Regions from separate parts of the Homo sapiens genome. Here region 2 is linked to region 1. Evidence: fine-mapped QTL for protein levels in blood plasma. Region 1 holds a variant in brackets. A gene starts in the other region. All regions are shown on their forward strands.

What was found. A credible set is the group of variants that fine-mapping cannot tell apart. PIP is the posterior inclusion probability: the model's chance that the variant is causal. Protein levels are from antibody-based Olink assays in UK Biobank. Linkage for the fine-mapping came from a reference panel and not from the study's own genotypes, which makes the PIPs less certain.
Region 2: CNTN5 starts here. The variant in region 1 is the best candidate, but not a certain one, in a credible set for the plasma level of the CNTN5 protein (UK Biobank, PIP 0.54).

Annotation. Positions count from the first base shown.
Region 1 is chr9:94,313,708-94,321,978 of GRCh38, forward strand. NUTM2F (NUT family member 2F) reads right to left here. Exons shown (of 7, transcript NM_017561.2): 4 at 7,386-7,525; 5 at 6,501-6,886; 6 at 5,906-6,022; 7 at 4,491-5,543. The coding sequence ends at 4,758. It overlaps LOC105376154 (a long non-coding RNA gene), which reads left to right. Exons shown (of 3, transcript XR_930132.4): 2 at 1,154-1,303. Among named protein-coding and RNA genes, the nearest start is that of NUTM2F, 11 kb to the right of the region's middle. RefSeq lists an enhancer at 4,778-5,457. The variant G/A (reference allele first, on the strand shown) is at 7,054.
Region 2 is chr11:99,016,459-99,024,790 of GRCh38, forward strand. It overlaps CNTN5 (contactin 5), which reads left to right and starts at 4,491. Exons shown (of 25, transcript NM_014361.4): 1 at 4,491-4,812. RefSeq lists a silencer at 6,868-7,068.

The DNA of each region.
Region 1 (8,271 bases):
TATATTGTATGATTCCATTCATATGCAAGTCCAGAGCATGTAAAGCTATATAGAATCAGTTCGTGGTTATGTAGGCCTAGGATGTAGATCGGTGGGGGGCAGGGGGTGATAGCTAAAGGACAAGGGTTTTTTTTTCTTCTTCATTTTTTGAGATGGAGTCTCACTCTGTCACCCAGGCTGGAGTGCAGCGGCACTATCTCGGCTCACTGCAACCTCCGCCTCTCCGGTTCAAGCGATTCTCCTGCTTCAGCCTCTCATGTAGCTGGGATCACATGTGTGCCACCATGCCCAGCTGATTTTTGTATTTTTAGTAGAGGCGGGGTTTCACCATGTTGGCCAGGCTGGTATTGAACTCTTCACCTCAAGTGATTCACTCACCTCGGCCTCCCAAAGTGTTGGGATTACAGGCGTGAGCCACTGCACCCAGCCTAGGGGTTTTCTTTTTGAGGTGATAAAAATGTTCTAAAGTTTATAGTGATGATGCTTACAAATTCTATAAGTAGACTTAATGCAGTGATGGTTGCAAATTCTATAAATATATTTAATGTGGTGATGGTGGCAAATTCTATGAAAAACCCAAATTGTACAATTTCAATGAGTGAAAGCATGCTATGTGAATGTCTTCATAAAGGTTTTATTTAAAAAATGAGCAAACGGTAGAATGTTAACATGGCCCACGTCTATGTGGTGTCTATATTGGTTTCTATTATATGTTTTCTATGTGGTTGAAACATTCCTAATAAAATGTGCATAGTTTTTTAAAAAAGAAAACACATCAGTGGACGTGAATGCAGGATGTCTTATGAATGCTCACACAGAAGCTCTCATTCCTGAGGAATGCAGGGAAAAGCAGAAGATGGAGTAGGAGTTGGCATGGCCCAGCTAGCTCAGATGACACACGATGGTCCCAGTGGCATGACTTGGTTTGTGCGATTTGTGCTTTGGGGTTTTATTTTGGCACATTATAAAGGAGTAAAGCCTGTATACAGTCAGTTTCTGTCTATTCTAATGAAGGGCAAGGGGATGAAGGGATTTACCTTGAGTAACCATCCACTTAACATTTATTAGGAATCTTGTGATCCTATCGTCACCCGTGAGATTTCTATGTTGTTTGTGTTTAATGTCAGAGAATATCTTTTAATCGCTCATACAGTTTATGCAAATACCGTATACGTGATAAACGTCCCTACAACATGATCTTTGGAATGAACTAAGACAAAGGAAACTCTGAGGAAGGACCATGGCCTGAGAGGTGGAATTCATCCTTCCGAGGACTGAGATGAGGACGGAAAATGAACCATCGGTAAATACAACCTTAGTCCGGATACATTTGCCTAAAATGAGCTCAAAGGGCACAAGTGTGCAGACAAAGCATGCTCAATGACATCATAACTCAGAATTCAGTAAAACCCAGCGTATCAGCTCCCTCACAGGGGATGTGCCAGGGTGGGGGCCACTGTTGAGAGTCTGCACCCAGTAATGGTCAGGGACTCAGTGACAATGACTCTGGCAGCCCTGGCCGGGTATCAGCCGATTGGCCAGGAGGGGGCAGCCTGGCCCAGATCCCCCAAACCAGGTGACTCTCACTAACATTGCCCAGGGCACCAAGACCTGAAGGACATCATGGGATGCTGAAGTTAGAATCAAAGTGCAGCTACAAAAGGGCAGCCACCTGGAGCAAGTCCATCCTGGTAGCTGTCAGAAAGCACTGCATGTTTACTAACGGGGGCCGGCCTTGCTCACATTGTCAGATGGAGTTTCTCAGGAGGCCATGGCTTCTTCAGGGATCTGTTGTCCAGTGGTGAAGGGAGTGGTTTCTGGAGGCAAACCTGCCCGGGGCCGCCCCAACTGCACTGGCTCCCAGAGAGTGACCTGGCTGCGTGAGCAGGGAGACCAAACCCACCGAGAGCCTCAGCATACCCCCAGCACCTGCTGTGAGCAAGCTGCTTGGCTTCCCCAAGTGTGGATATGACGATGTCATGGGTGTTTACAGATTCCCTTGCACTGTGTCCCACAGCAGTACTGGTTCACGTGTGATACACTGCACTTGGGGTGGAGGTGTGCTGACAGTCGTAAAGAGCCGAGCCTTTCTTCATTCTTTCCCATGGCTCTGATACAGTTTCCAGATACCAGTCAGGAAGGAAGTTCCTGAGATGATGGACCTTGTCCTAGTCACATAGGGCTGCTAGGACAAAGTGTCCTAGACTTGGTGGGTGGGGGAGGCGGTGCGTATTAAGAAACAAAATGTATTTGTCAGTCTGGAGGCTGGAAGTCTGACGTTAGGGTCACAGCAAGGTGAGGTTCTGGTGAGGGCTCTCTTCCTGGCTTGCAGACGGCTGCCTTCTCACTGTGTCCTCATGTCAGGGAGAGAGAGAGAGTGCTGGGATCTCTGCTTCTTACCATGGCCCTAATCCCATCATTAGGGCCCCACCCTCATGTTCTCTTCTAACCCTGAGTAACTCCCAAAGGCCCCATCTCCAAATACCATCACGTTAGGAGTTAGGGCTTCACCACAGGAACTGGGCGGGGGGGACACATGTTAAGTCCATCAGAGTCCCCCAGTCAGCCCCACTGTGCCCATTTAGGGGCAGATTGTAGGGCTCAGGCGGGACACAGAGGTGAAGGAAGCATAGGTTCTGCCTCTTGGAAATGGCTCAGCCAAAACAAGGACAGGGACAGTGGGGCAGGAAACAGCTAGTGGGGTAAACCAGCAGAAGCCCCGAGGTGTCACTAAACCAAGGTATCACTTTCACACTTAGGTGAGGAAGTTGGCTGAGCACCCACACACGCCAGAGTACAGACCACATTCCCTTCAAACACGGCTCACTTAACATTCCTAAACCCTGCAAAGGGGAGGTGTTACCTTGTCTCCTGAGGATGGCCCTGAATGTAGAGGAGTCACGGGAGCTGCCCACATCACCCACCAGTGACTCTTCACTCCCCACATTTTCCCCAAGGGCCTGTTGTGCCCTCAGCTGGGGAAGCCCTGCCAAGATAAACTCTCCTTCCCAAAGGCGAAAGCGGGTGGCAGGCCTCCGACACTGCCCACATGGAGCGGAAGGGATGGGGCAGAGAGGCATCTGTCTGGCTGACTGCTGTGTTCTGTGGGCAGATGGGGCCAGAGAGAACCCAAACATGGCTCCCTTTGTCACTTGGCAGAGGGACCAGGCCGCCATATACCAGAGAGCTTTGCCCCATCAGCTTCTGCTGCTGGGCCAACTCCCAGCACCATGACCACAGCTCTGCATGCGGGCAGTGCTGGGACCAGTGCTCTGGCAGTCACAGCGGTCCTGAGCCAACAAGGGCCCTGGGGAGGAATCAGAACTCAGACTGTGGAGAAGAAGGTGTTGGCCAGGAGGGAACCAGGGCAGGTGCTGGGTCCTGTCCATGCTGGGATCTGAGATTCTGAGAGGTGGGTTAGGGGTAAGGGGGGCAGAGGTCGGCCACATGGGGTGAGGGGAGTTCAGCAGAGATGGGGAGGACAGGACAACCTGGGAAAAAGCAGAGTATCCTCCCCAGCCTCAGTCCCTCTCCTGATGCAGTCCTCATCTCACTCGTAGACTCCAGAAGTCTCCCTTCAGTGAACACCTGGCCCCCGACTCTCAGGGCACTTCCCAGACAGCCAGTGCCACATCCCAGGCAGCCCCTGCTCTGCCCTTGGGGTCTGTGCCTGGCAGAAGGGCGACTGACCCTCGGCCCCTCTCGGCCTGGGCCCCAGCTTCTCCTGGCCCTGGGACCAGCAGACACACCCACCTTGCGCCTGGCAGGCTGGTCATGCTTGTTCCCGTTGGTGATGGTGTGTTGGGAGGGAACTGTTTTAGATGCCAATGTAAATCTGTGTCTACATCAATTCCACACGAGTTCAGTCATCATATGGGAAGGGAATCATAGCTGTTGGGGGAGCTCCATGCAAGACCCTGAGGGCCCCTGAGGCCATTCCATGTGGCCACAGCAAGGAGCATCTGCTTCAGCCAGTTGGACAAGACTCTCTCCTGCCCAGAAACAGGCCCCTGCTCTGCGCCCCTCATCATATCCCAAACACACCCATGTGGACGGTCACCTCAACGTCTCCCCTCAGCCCAGTGCCCGTGCTCTTCCTGATGAGGGTTAAGCAGGAGCAGCCGCCTCTCCCCATGTCCATGTTGCAGGCAGCTGCCTTCTCCTCAGCTCCCACCGAGCAGAAAAAAAGCCAGCCAGCTCTCTCCATCCCAGGATTTTCCAGGGATACTGATAATGATGGGAGGCCCCGAGAAGCCTCCCTAAAGCAGGCGGGGCCTTGTGAGTGGATGGTGGGAGGGATCAGGGCTTCCTCAGCATCTGTCAGTCCCCAGAGCATCTGAAGGGGCCCCCTATAACAGGAGAAAAGAGTGGGGCCAGCCCCTGTGGGTTCCCAGTGCCTGGCCTCTCCCAGTTCCTCAGCCCTGAGGCCTCACAGACACCCTCCACAAAGCAGCACAACGCCAAGGGCAGAGGCAGCAGCCCTGAGAGCATTTTCCAAAACAACTACATTTATTCACATTTACACACAAGGCCCCCAAGGCACTGCTTCCCACCCCCCAGGCCCTCCCTTCCTGCCCTCCCCGTTCAGCCACCTTCTCCCTCCCCTCCTTCCCCTACCCTCCAAAGCTAAGGCCCAGCAAGATCAGCACTGGAGGAGAAGCAGCCTTTGCTTTGGGGCACCGGGTGCCATGAGGGTCCGAGACTTCAGAGCCCCACTTTTGGGGACTGGCATCAGAGAGTCTGCCCCATGGCGGCCCCTACTGGCTACAATGCCGCTTCTTCTTCCTCCTGGAGGCCAAGGGGTCACCCTTTCTCTTTTGAGACTGTGAGGGGCCACCCAGCCCCCAAGCCAGGGATTGCTCCCCAGAGACCCTGAGCCCAGGCCCTGGGTGCGGTGTCTTTTCAGCAGGGGATGGGCTTCCAAAGAGAGGTCGCTTCTTGGACTTGCTGGCAGGAGAAGGTGATGGGCTGAGGCCTCTTTTCTGAGCAGATGGAGACTGAAGAGCTCCCTGGGGTCCTCTCCCTCCTGGGCTGAGAAGGCCCGAGGAAGGGACAGGGCTCTGGGACAGCCTCCAGGGCCTCAGCCTGTGGTGGGAACCCACGACATAGACCATGCCAGGGAGTTCCGTCTCCTCACTTGACCCCTTAGCCAGCCCATGTGACTCCTTGACAGGAGACTCTCCAGGGAGACCCAAGGCGTCCTTGGTCCCCAGGCCGGGGCAGGTGGGTCTGTGGTCCTGGGGAGGAGAGGTTGGCCGGACAGCCTTCAGCCTGGGGGAATCCTGACATCCCAAAAGCACAGCAGGGTCTTCGGACCTGGCCATGCCAGTGCGCACTCTGCCCTGTCCCTGAGGGTCCTGGGCAGCTGTCTGGGGTGGGGAGGTTTCCACGCTGACCCTTTGTTGGGGGTCAGGGACCTCTCTCGCTGCTTCTTGGCCAGCTGCAAACTCAGAAGGACTTGAGTCCAACCTGGCCGTGCCATGTCGAGGGGCTGCCCTCCCGCACCCTTTCTCCTTCAAGGACAGGAGGCGCTTCTCCACTAGCTGCGGAAGGAAAGGGGGCACTTACTGGCGCTGCCCCAGGTGTGAGCAGGGCCCAGAATGGTGGAGACCAGGGCACTTGGGTGGGAGGCAGGGAAGCCTGAGGCAGCTGGGCTTCATGTCAAAGAGAGAGGGTGTGGCTCTGCCGGGCATCCCGTTGGGCCTCACTGCAGCTTGCATCCTGACTCCCCTCCCTGGCTCCTCTCCATCCTACTCCCTCTGAACCTGCATCTTCCCACCCCGGAGTGGCTCCCCAAGAAGCTGAACATCCCCAGCAGGGTGGGCTTAGACAATCGGGTGGGCCTTGTGTGCCGGGTCCCTCCTGCCCCTGGAGTACCTGGGTTCCCCTCCCTCCGCTGCTCTACCTGGGCAAGGGTGAGTCCTTCCTCCTGCTCCAGCTCCTGGCTTAGGGCCAAGAAATCCATCTGTGGATCTGGGGAAAGCAATTCTTCCAGGAATCGGGGGTGAATGACGGCCTCCACCTGGAAACAGAAGGAAGAAGGTGTGAACTTCCTGGGGAGGGAGTAACCTGGAGCCAAGGACACCCGGAGGAGATGCAGAAAGCGGGGAGGGCCCCATTCCCACCCTCCTGGGGCTGTTTCATATCATGGCGACCACCAGCTACACGCACAGACCACAGACCTCGTAGCATACACACATACAGACAGAGACACACAAACCACACACAGACACACAGACCCATGTACAACACAGGAAAAGACAGACACAGGTAACATACACACTCCACACTCACACCCACACAGACACACAAAGACACAGTAACAAATCACAGACACAAACACACAGCAACACACAGACACACACAGTCACATACACAGACACTCAAATCCATGGAAATACACATACTACTGAGTAGCTAAGGAACAGAGCTTAATTCCAAGGACCTGGAAGTGCCACCCCCTGGAATCCTACAGACCACAGCACTCCAGGCAAGCCCACCTTGGTGACAAAGTCTTCCTGGGAACACAGCTTGTCAATGTAGCTCAGGAGGCCCGGGTCTGAGGTTATCCCGTCCTCTTCCTGCGGCTGCTCCACTTTGCCCTTTTCCCGTTGTCCCTCAGGCTCCCCTGTGTCCCCAGGGTGAGACCCCAGCAGCTCCTCCATGATGTCCACATACTCCTGCACCACTTCAGGGGGGATCTCCTCAGGGACCTTGGTCTCCGCTGGCCTCTGGGGCCTGGGTGGTGGCAGGTGGGCGTTGGTCTCCGCTGGCCTCTGGGGCCTGGGTGGTGGCAGGTGGGCCTTGGTCTCCGCTGGCCTCTGGGGCCTGGGTGGTGGCAGGCAGGCAGTCGGGGCCTTGGGGCCATCCTTGCTGGGAAGGTACACTGAGGCAGAGAGGGAGGAGGATGGGTGTGGTGAGGGCCGCTCCTCCTGCCTGCACCACACAGGGGAGGGCAGGGCTTGGGGATGTGAAGTGGGTCCCAGCTGGGTCAGGACCACCTGAACCACAGCGCCCCGGAGGAGACGCCACAGGAGGGGCACATCTGAGACA[G/A]CATCGCTTGGGAGGAAGTTTGGAGCCACCGATATGCCGTGTACTCTCCCCGCTCATCTCTGCTTCCTGGGCAGAGCATATGTGGAGTTTTGGACAGGCAAGGGGAGAGAGAAAGTAGGAAACTTGGCCCGGTCAATACCCTGCTTCGTGATCACGGGCCACCCATGAAGTAGGTATTCACCTGGTCAATACCCAACATACACTCCCGGAAGCTGTCCTGTTGGAGGGAGCAAATCCCCCTCTTGAAGGGAAGCATGGGGTGTGGGGACAGTGGCCTCCCTTGGCCCCTTTGGCCTTTGCCATGGCTCCTGTGGGAATGTGGGAAGCTGTACCTGGCTGCTTGACCACCTCAGGGGCAGGGGGTCCTCGAGGTTCAAGCCTCGGCGGGGCTGGAGGAGGCAGGCTCTGGGGCCCCTTCATCCACTGCGATTTCTGAATCTGCATCTCCTCCTCAGCCTCAAATTCCAGGAACCTGTGGGTGAAGGAGGCCCAGGCTGTGCTGAGAGGGTCCAGGCCCCCTCCCCCCAGGACCAGGCAGCAGCTGAGGGCAGGGATGGGAGGGAGTGCCTCCGGCGGGCTGTCCAGGCCCTCACTGGGACCCATCCCCCAGTCCCAGGAGGGAGCTGCTCCCAGAGTTCTGGGCTCACCCTCCCTCACCCGGCCCCTGCAGAGCCCATGGCATCAATGGGGCTTCCTGACTCAAGTCAGGGCCACGAGGTCCAGGAGGGTCCCGGGAACCCCTCCTCCAGGTATCAGCTGGCCGGGGGTGGGGTTGATGGCAGAAGGCGTCAGGGATGATGCCCAGATGCAGGAGTCCTGAGGCTGGGACTGTGGGCCCCTGAAGGATAACCCAGGGACACGAGGCCCGGGAGACCCCTGGTCAGGAGGAAGCAAAAGCTGAGCCCAGAGGACAGGGCCCGTTTCCCCTGAGGCTGCTGTCTGTCTGTCTTCACGGACGGTTCTGCCCAGGAGCAAAGGCAGTCAGGCCAGAGAGGGGTCTCATGGTGTCCCAGGTACAGGTCTCCCCTGACCCAACTCCCTGGCCAGGCTGGGATGGGAGAAAACCGACTTCTGGCCACTGCTGTGAGGAGCCTGCCCCCCACTCTGTCTTTAGTCACTAGCACCCCTTCTCCCCATCCCCACAGCTGGAGGAGACCCCCTTTGGGCTGCGATGCTGGCTGCTCCCGCCATGACCCCCAGTGTCAAGACAGCGGTTGG
Region 2 (8,332 bases), not on the chromosome of region 1:
TGTACCTGACAGACTTGGGAGACAGGGAAGAGATGGGAAATGATCAAGATGCAACACACATATGGCCATTCTTTAAAACCATAAAGAACAAATTAGACTAATTCTAAGAAACCATTAGACATTTTTATCCCATACTGAGAAGAATGGTATGTAAACAGTGACAATACAGAGGTATTTACCTGGTCATGAGCAAATGAATCTTTGGTTTTGTTTCTTTATGGAAACAACTTTATATCCAGAGGTCTTGGTGAGAGAATGCTACATAAAAGAAAAATTAGACATCTGTAAAGGTAAGTGAATTAAAACTGATAGAGATCCTGAGACTTAAAATATATCCAAGAAAAAAAAATAGAAATGCATATCTAAAGGAATCTACTGGATGAAAACTAAGTAAACTTTACCTTTAAATTAGTAAGATTTCAACTTTTACTTCTATTTTCTAAAATCTTAATTAACTGCAAATGTTTATGGTTTGCATAAATAGTTGGACCAAAATGTCACAAAGGGTGAGCATAAATTCCACCTACAGGAGATTAGATATTTGCAGCTTCTGTAAGTAAGAGTTGGTACTGTGACCACCAAAAGCTTGACCACCACAGTTGAATTAGAGCTCCTCTCTCATACTTCTTAATGGTTTTGGTTGCCGATGTTATCAAGACATCCACAAAGTAGACTATGTTCTTTAGCGTTGTTTACTGAAGCAGCTGTTAAATTAATTAAGTTGGTATATTTTCCAAGTCTGATTAAGATATGTTTACTTCTGCTTTCACAAAACAGCTGTGATATGAGTACTGAGACACATCTTCTAAGAAACTCAAAATATAATTAAAATCATATTTTGTCCAGTTCAAGTAAAAGTTTACTTTTGCTTCTTCATGTGTTACTTTGCACTTATAGGGAATACTGGCATATATTGAAAATGCAAGATTTTGATTCCTTTAATTTTTATCTTAGTACTTACCCATTCACCATTATTGGTAACACATTAACATAGAGGATTAAAACATCAAAACAGAAAATGCAAATGCTAAAAGAAGCTCCAGTAGGCAAGGCAGATGATCCAAGAAAGATGACTGATCTAGACATGAATTCACCATTGGTCTGCTTCCCTACAGTTATGCTATGATTTGATGGAACATAATAATAGTTATGATCTGTTAACTAGAACCTAGAACTTATCTGAGTCAAATGAAGGGAAAGAGAAAGGAGGGCATGATTTCAATAAAAATCTGTTACACAAATAAGACAAAAGCTCAGAGGCACCTCAACTGCTACAGATGTGCTGCATCTGCTTGCTTGCCCATTGGGGACGATGAGATAAAGAGATTAAGACATTTACACAAAGATGGCTAGACAACAAGATCAGATCAGCAACATGACAGCTAGGTTGAGGTGTCATAACCATAGCATAGAGAAAGTGACCTACTGAACCACTTACCCCACTTACAAACAATGTTTTAATTAACTTAATGTACAAATGATATTTTACCAGGGTACAGGATGAGCTGGTTAATTCAAAAATGTCATTAGCATCAAACAGAGAAAACCAGTGATCTTTTAATAATGCCATTTTATTAAGAAAACAGCATTGGAATTTAATAATGGGGCATACATACTTTTATATCTTTTAAAGACAAATCTTACATCAAAACAACTATAACTTAAAATCCCATTCTCACATGTCAATAGTAGAAAATCTTGGTCATGGTATGTGAAAAGATTTGATGTTTACTTGGAAAACACAAGGTAGTTTGTTTCTTTTTAGTGGAACTCTAACAAGGAGTTTTGTTTGTTTGTTTCTTATTTTAAGCACTGTTGTTTCTCTAATTCCAGACATTGACCTGCTTAAACCTGAACACTGTGGATATAAAAGGATACAGAAGTGTACCTGATCTATAGAGCCCTTACTCTCCAAGCAGAAAATTGTAAAAATATACAGTACATAAGTTAACTCCATAACAGCAAAATTCTAAAGAAAGATGAGTCAGATAGACTAACAGTTTGTCTGTTACATATATAGATATTAATAGGGAATATATAATTGTATATTATTACAAATTAGAACATTAAAAGTCATAAAAGACATGAGAATAAATATAGTCACTCTTTCTGGGTCCTGAATGAAGTGTAGCCAGGTAACCTAGTCACCCCCAAATAATGATTGAAGTCAACATTTTAAATTTGAACTGACAGAAATAGACCTTACTATTTTTAATTAAACAGATTCAACGTTTCCTTTCTCTCCCTCTAAAGCATCAGATAACTTCGCAAGGAAAAGTGCTATTACATTATCTACTTGTTTCAAAAATATATTCACACCATAGTCTTGTGATAATATTGCTCTCTTTATAAAAAGTAGAAACATTAAAAGCTTTTATTTAGTTCTTGCTTAAGAAAGGAGAAATATTTAGTCCATTTACATCATGTAAAAGGTAAATTTTCTTGTTCATGTTAATGGTAGGAGGGCACCATGAATCATGTGACCGATAGCATTTCCTTCTTTACATTGGCTGCTAACAAAGTTAATGGCAGACCTAGCACCATTTGTAACAAAAACATCAATGCAGTTTTCTCTATAAACCTCATTTCTGGCTTCATCTTATCTCTCCTCCTATCACTTTACCGTTTGTCTTGATCTCACTGACCTACATTTTTTATTCATTTTTTTAAACTGAATAGATTTTTATAAGCCAACTTACATCCTTTCTAGGGCAAAGCTAGTTGAAAGAAATTATGTGACATAATGACTCAAAATGCCCAAATTATCGGATCATGGGTAATATAGAATGGTGTTCTAAGAAGGGAAGAGAACTTTCAGAAAGCTTTCTACACTCCCGATCCCTCTTTCAGGCTGCATGTGCTCAATTATACACTTTTAAAGGCAAAAACCTCATCGAACAATAAAAAGAATGCGTTAGAGCTCCTACACTTTGAATTTATTTTGTGATGTATTTAATGTGGTTATAAAAGTCCTGGTAGTTCTCTCTGTGAACCGACAGCCTGACAGAGGAGAAGAGCCAGTGGGGCAGAGAAAAAGCCACAGAAGGGGAATCTCCACAACGATCCCTCAGTTAACACATAAAGAAGATAACCTAGTTACTGGAAAGCAGGAACACGAATATAAAAAGTATGGAAGAGTGGAGAAGTATTAAATGCACACAAATTTGTCTTTGCTACAGAACAAGCAATCAGCCTAGATCCTGAGGATAGCGATTAAAAGCAGAGACTGGGTGTTTGTACATCATTGGATGAATGAGAAGCAGCCAAGAAACAGGAAAAGACTAATTTTAATTACCAGAAAAACTGCAAGAGAAAGAACACAGGGCTAGTGGTAGACGGCTTCCAGCTACAGGCTGCCTGGCACTGTACTCTCCTTGCCAATTAGAGCCAGTCAGACCCCATCGGGGGATTCAGTGAGCAGAAGAATCAGCGTCAGTCCAGGGTCAGGCTGCTCTCAAACACACATGAAAAACGGACACCAGCGGACACGGGGTGCGACCCTAGACTCCCATGCAGTTTCTTATACAGACACAGAGATAGAAAGCAGTACGTGGGATTTCCTTTCCATTAAATACAGGTGCAAACCACATTCTCTATGGAAATATATTGCAAAGGAAATGTTATATAATTTATTTAACAAATACCCAATTACCATCAGCCCAATCGTGGGAATTGGAAAACGACTCAAAGACTGAGAGGAAAAAAAAAAAAAAAGTAGAGAGGAGGACTGGCAGAACAATGGCACTAAAGCTGCCACACTGTGGATTTACTACCTGTGTTATTTTTCCAATTACAGCCATTGTAATATAAAAATTCCGAAAAAAAGGTTGCTGAGACCATTCCTTCGCTTTTTTTTAGAACTGAGTCAACACCCCAAATCAAAGAGAAATATAAACAGGCAGAGCCTGATAGTCCTTAGATGAAACGCGTAAGTGCAGAAACAAAAGAGAAGTGCTTCCCATTCAGGACTTAAGAAAATTCTGCAAAGTGAAAAAGTCCACTCTCAAACCGACCTAAGTGAACGCGTCAGTCTGTGCTGCTGCTGTCAGAGGTGTGAGCCGGGGACTACAGGAATCAGAGTGAAGACAGGAGCGGAGGAAGGGACTCTCGCCTGGATCTCCCGTGCCGACTCCAGCCAGCACGTTTGCTTTGTAATCTATGAATGTTAAATACGGAGGGGTTGCAGAGCAGAAACGCTCGGGGAAGGGGGGCAGGTCCTCTGTACTTAGCAGGGAAGGAAAATGCCGGTTGACTAGTGAGACGAGTGGAGAAACACAGAGCACCCTCCGGGAGGCGCACAGTTCGTTAAGCCCAGGGACATGCTCAATGAACCTTTGCAGCAAGAGGCAGTGAGGCGCTGGACGCGGGCGCCGGTGACAGCGCGGGCGGCCGGGGAGGGGCGAGGGGCCGCCCCGGGAGGACACAGCCAGTCAGAGGCGCGGGGCGCAGGGCGCGCGGACGCATTGGAGGAAAACACGCGAGCCCCAAACACACCAGCCGCAGGAGGCGCCGCACCTACTTCCCAATATAACCAACTACGGCGTGGGGGAGCGGAACTGCGAGAAGGCGGCAGCCAAAGTGCCATTAAAGCTCGGGGCGGAGAGGATGCGTTACCTGGGTCCCGTCTGCTGCGAGAGGCAGGGCAAGCTGGAGGATTCCCTCTGAATGATTAAGAACTCCGCAATTCGCCTCTGCCACAGGCTGCAAAGGACCCGAGGAACCGCTCTCTCTGAACTGTGCTGATGGGCAGGAGGATGGGAGACAGGAATTGAGAGTCACAGAGGAAGGACAGTGGAGTCTGGCATCTTATTGGTAAGTGGCTGACATTCCTTTGCCAGTGACTGCGTTCTGTGATTGTGCACTTCATCTCCCAGCCACTTAGGATTTTTGACACACTCTGTTCTGCAAAGCCATCCTTTCTTGCCATGTTGCCAGAATGTAAAAACTGTAAGATGAAGCTTTTTTAAATAAAGGAAACAAAACACGACTTTATTTCCTGCTGGGATTTTATGGCAAAAAGTTGAAACAAGAGTAAATATAACCTATTTGTATATCTCCTAATGCCACCCAAAATAAGAGTAAGCAATTCCTACACGCAAATTGCAAATTGTAAGGCAATAAATGCCAGGATAAAGTGAGGATGTTTCTACAAAAGAAACTAAATGTTTGGAAAATAGGATGCCGTTCTCAGGTACTGAATGTATGCCTTATGTTTGAGCAATGAGTTTCCGAGACTAAATAATTGGGCATCTGGCATTGCAATAACTTGTTAAAATTCAGTAGGGATGCTCTATAAGTGGAGTTCTACAAAGTTCGTGAGACTGAGAAAAACTGTATCTTGGATTATGCTGAGCTTTTTTCTAAAGGTTGTATAGGATTGTGATAGATTAAAAAATTATGTTCAGACATCCTTACCATGTTTTGTAGGGAGATATACGGAAGAGAATATCAATTTGCACATACACAAACCTGAGAATTACTCTGATGACCTGAACAATAAGTTGTTTCAACTATATTTATTTGCGAAAGAACCAGAATCCACTAAATATTTTAGAATTATATTACTTTTAAATCTTAGAACTGTTCTCCCAAGAAAAATACAATTTCATGTGGTAATTTAAATGCAGGTGAGAAGCAAAAAACTTTTAAACTGTTGTATGTTCAATGCCTTACCTACATTTCATTCATTTGTTTCTTAATTTAAAAGAGAAAATCATTTAGAGGGTCAATACTTCTACTTTGATTCTCAATTACGACTGTGGAAATAAGGATGAAAGAAGTAGATGTTCATTAGAATACTAGCATTTAAAATTATAGACAAATAGTCAAATTTAAAAATTAATGCAGATATCATCGATTACTGTTGAATTGCAACAGAATTACAGAAGTACTTATGACCATTACAGGGAGCTTAAAGGAGTTCATTATGATTAATATTGTGACTCTCAGTATTTTAAAAAATAATGATTAGGTCATTAACTGTTTTTGAAAATGCCTGTAGTCAATTTTGAGCAATTCTCATGGTTGCTTGCATATTCTCCTATTTCATGCTCAAATTATTCTAAGTTAAGTGGGGACTAGTATGCTGAGTCTTAAACTTAACAGGCATAAGTTTACTCTGACTCTAATCGAAAAGAGGTATGAGTAAGAATATGTCATATAAAACTAATGATAACAAATTAAAGATATTACATAAAAAGATCATCTAAGTCCATTAAAGGGAAAAAGGCAAAAAAAATCAGAGTTAAAGTTATAAAAAGGGAAATTCAATATAAAGAATAGAATTTGACAAATAGCTGGAGTGTGAGGGAATGATATTAAAGCCTATCTGAAAATAGAAAGTCAGTGAAATGATTATTACAAGTGCCAGTGTTTTTGCTTAGGAATTGGTGTATCCTTTAAATTATTTAAAACTTCTGAAAATTGAGAAAGGAGGAGAAAAACTGCTAATTTTAATTTCTTTCTGATTCCATAGACAACTGAACAGAAAGTTAGATTCTTAAAAGTTATATAAAAATATAATCCCATAGATTAACTAAATGCCGGACTTTGTCTATAAGTTGTGAGGCACATGCACACCAAGGTGCTTTTGGAAATACATCCAAAAAGCTACAGTTGTGGAATTTTTAAATGAATAGCTGAAATACCTGAATGTTTCTCAAGGTGAGCAGTTAGTACTTCAAGTATTAGGTGGTCTGAAACAATTCTTAGTCAGGGAGCCAACCTGAAATCAAATCATGAATCTATACATAGAATATGTTTATGTAAGATGAATCATTAAAATTAGTAGCATGTAAAAATTTACTTCAATCTTATGTGTCCAATTAAGTAGCGCTATCTGTTAGAAATGTACCAGGTTTGGCTGATATGTATTTCTTTAAATGTCTCTTTTACTTCACAGTTTAGAAAATCTTGACCACTTTCAGGGTAGAGGTAGGAGTGTGATTGTCTGTCACAGCTGACTTAGCAATATGGACCAGAGGGTGCCAGTAAAGGGCAAAGGGCCCGCATAGGCTGGCCAAAGCATTTTGGAGTTTGTCTTACTTCTAGACAAAATAAAGGCATAATTTGTGAAGATTAAAATAAAAATGATGAAAACTTCTCTAGATGGCTGTAATACTGTGAAGATGATTTGACTGTAGAGAGTTTGATTGGCTAAAACAAAGTTGTAGCAGAGTTTAGTGTCTCCTTCATCAGTCAAAAACTAATCCAGAATTTTATGAGGCTCAGATATTTACAATATTGTAATTTGCCGAATCCATTCTTTCTCATGTATCTTGATTACCTATTGTCTTTGAACTTTCTTTTAAAATACGGGTTTTTAAATTTTTACCAAGTCGTTGGAAATTTATTTCTCTTACTTTAAATAATAAACTCATACATTCATGTAGTTTGTTTTCTTGAAATTCTGACTCCAGGAGTTGATTTTATCTCTCTTTCTTCTTTCTGACAATCCAAGCATAAAGTAAGAGAGTAATATGTTTCTCACAAGATGTTAAGAACCGTGTTGTAAGGCTGTGCTAACATGTTACATGAACTTCTTAACACTTTATAGCAGGAAAGAGACTGGTCGGAAGCTCAAAGCGGTAGAATCACTGCAGAGGTCTATTTTCTGAGCATTTGTGATCAATAACTCCACATTAGAGGCTGGTACATTTTAAAAAGTAATGAAGTATATAAAACTCCTAATGCTTAAGATTTAAGATTAAAAACTATTATGAACTATATTCCATCTCCCTACCCACTCAAGTAAGAAATCCTGTTTTATGATTTTTGGAGATTCAAATGTGTATTGTTAGAAGTGTTCTAATAAACTGAATATTATTAGTTTATGTTTTTTCCAGACACTTAAACAGTGTTTTAGTTAATTATTTTATTTAAATTGAATGACACAAAATATAGTGTTTTAATACAGTGGCTATAAAAGCAATTTTTAAAGGGAAACATGAATTTGCTTTTTAAGAAAACTGGTTTTACAATGGATTTCTTTCATCAAAATTATTTTGAAGTATTGAATTGAATCCCAAGAAATTGACACAACACTGTATAACTTCAGTTATGTTTTGCCTATTATAAATATTTGCATAAGCTAATTGTAGATAATTTTATGTCTATTAATCCCCATAAATTAAAACACACGTCTTTAGTTTTATATCCCAGAGTAGTGCATGTTATATTTTTGACATTATACCCTCCTCAAACATAAGCTCATACGTGTTACAAAGCTATTCAAAGTATGGTAGTTTCTCTTTTCTCCAGTGCAGGGAACTGGGAACTTTCCAGAGAGGCCACAAAGTAATTGTGAAAAATAAATCAAGATTGTCTGTTTTAT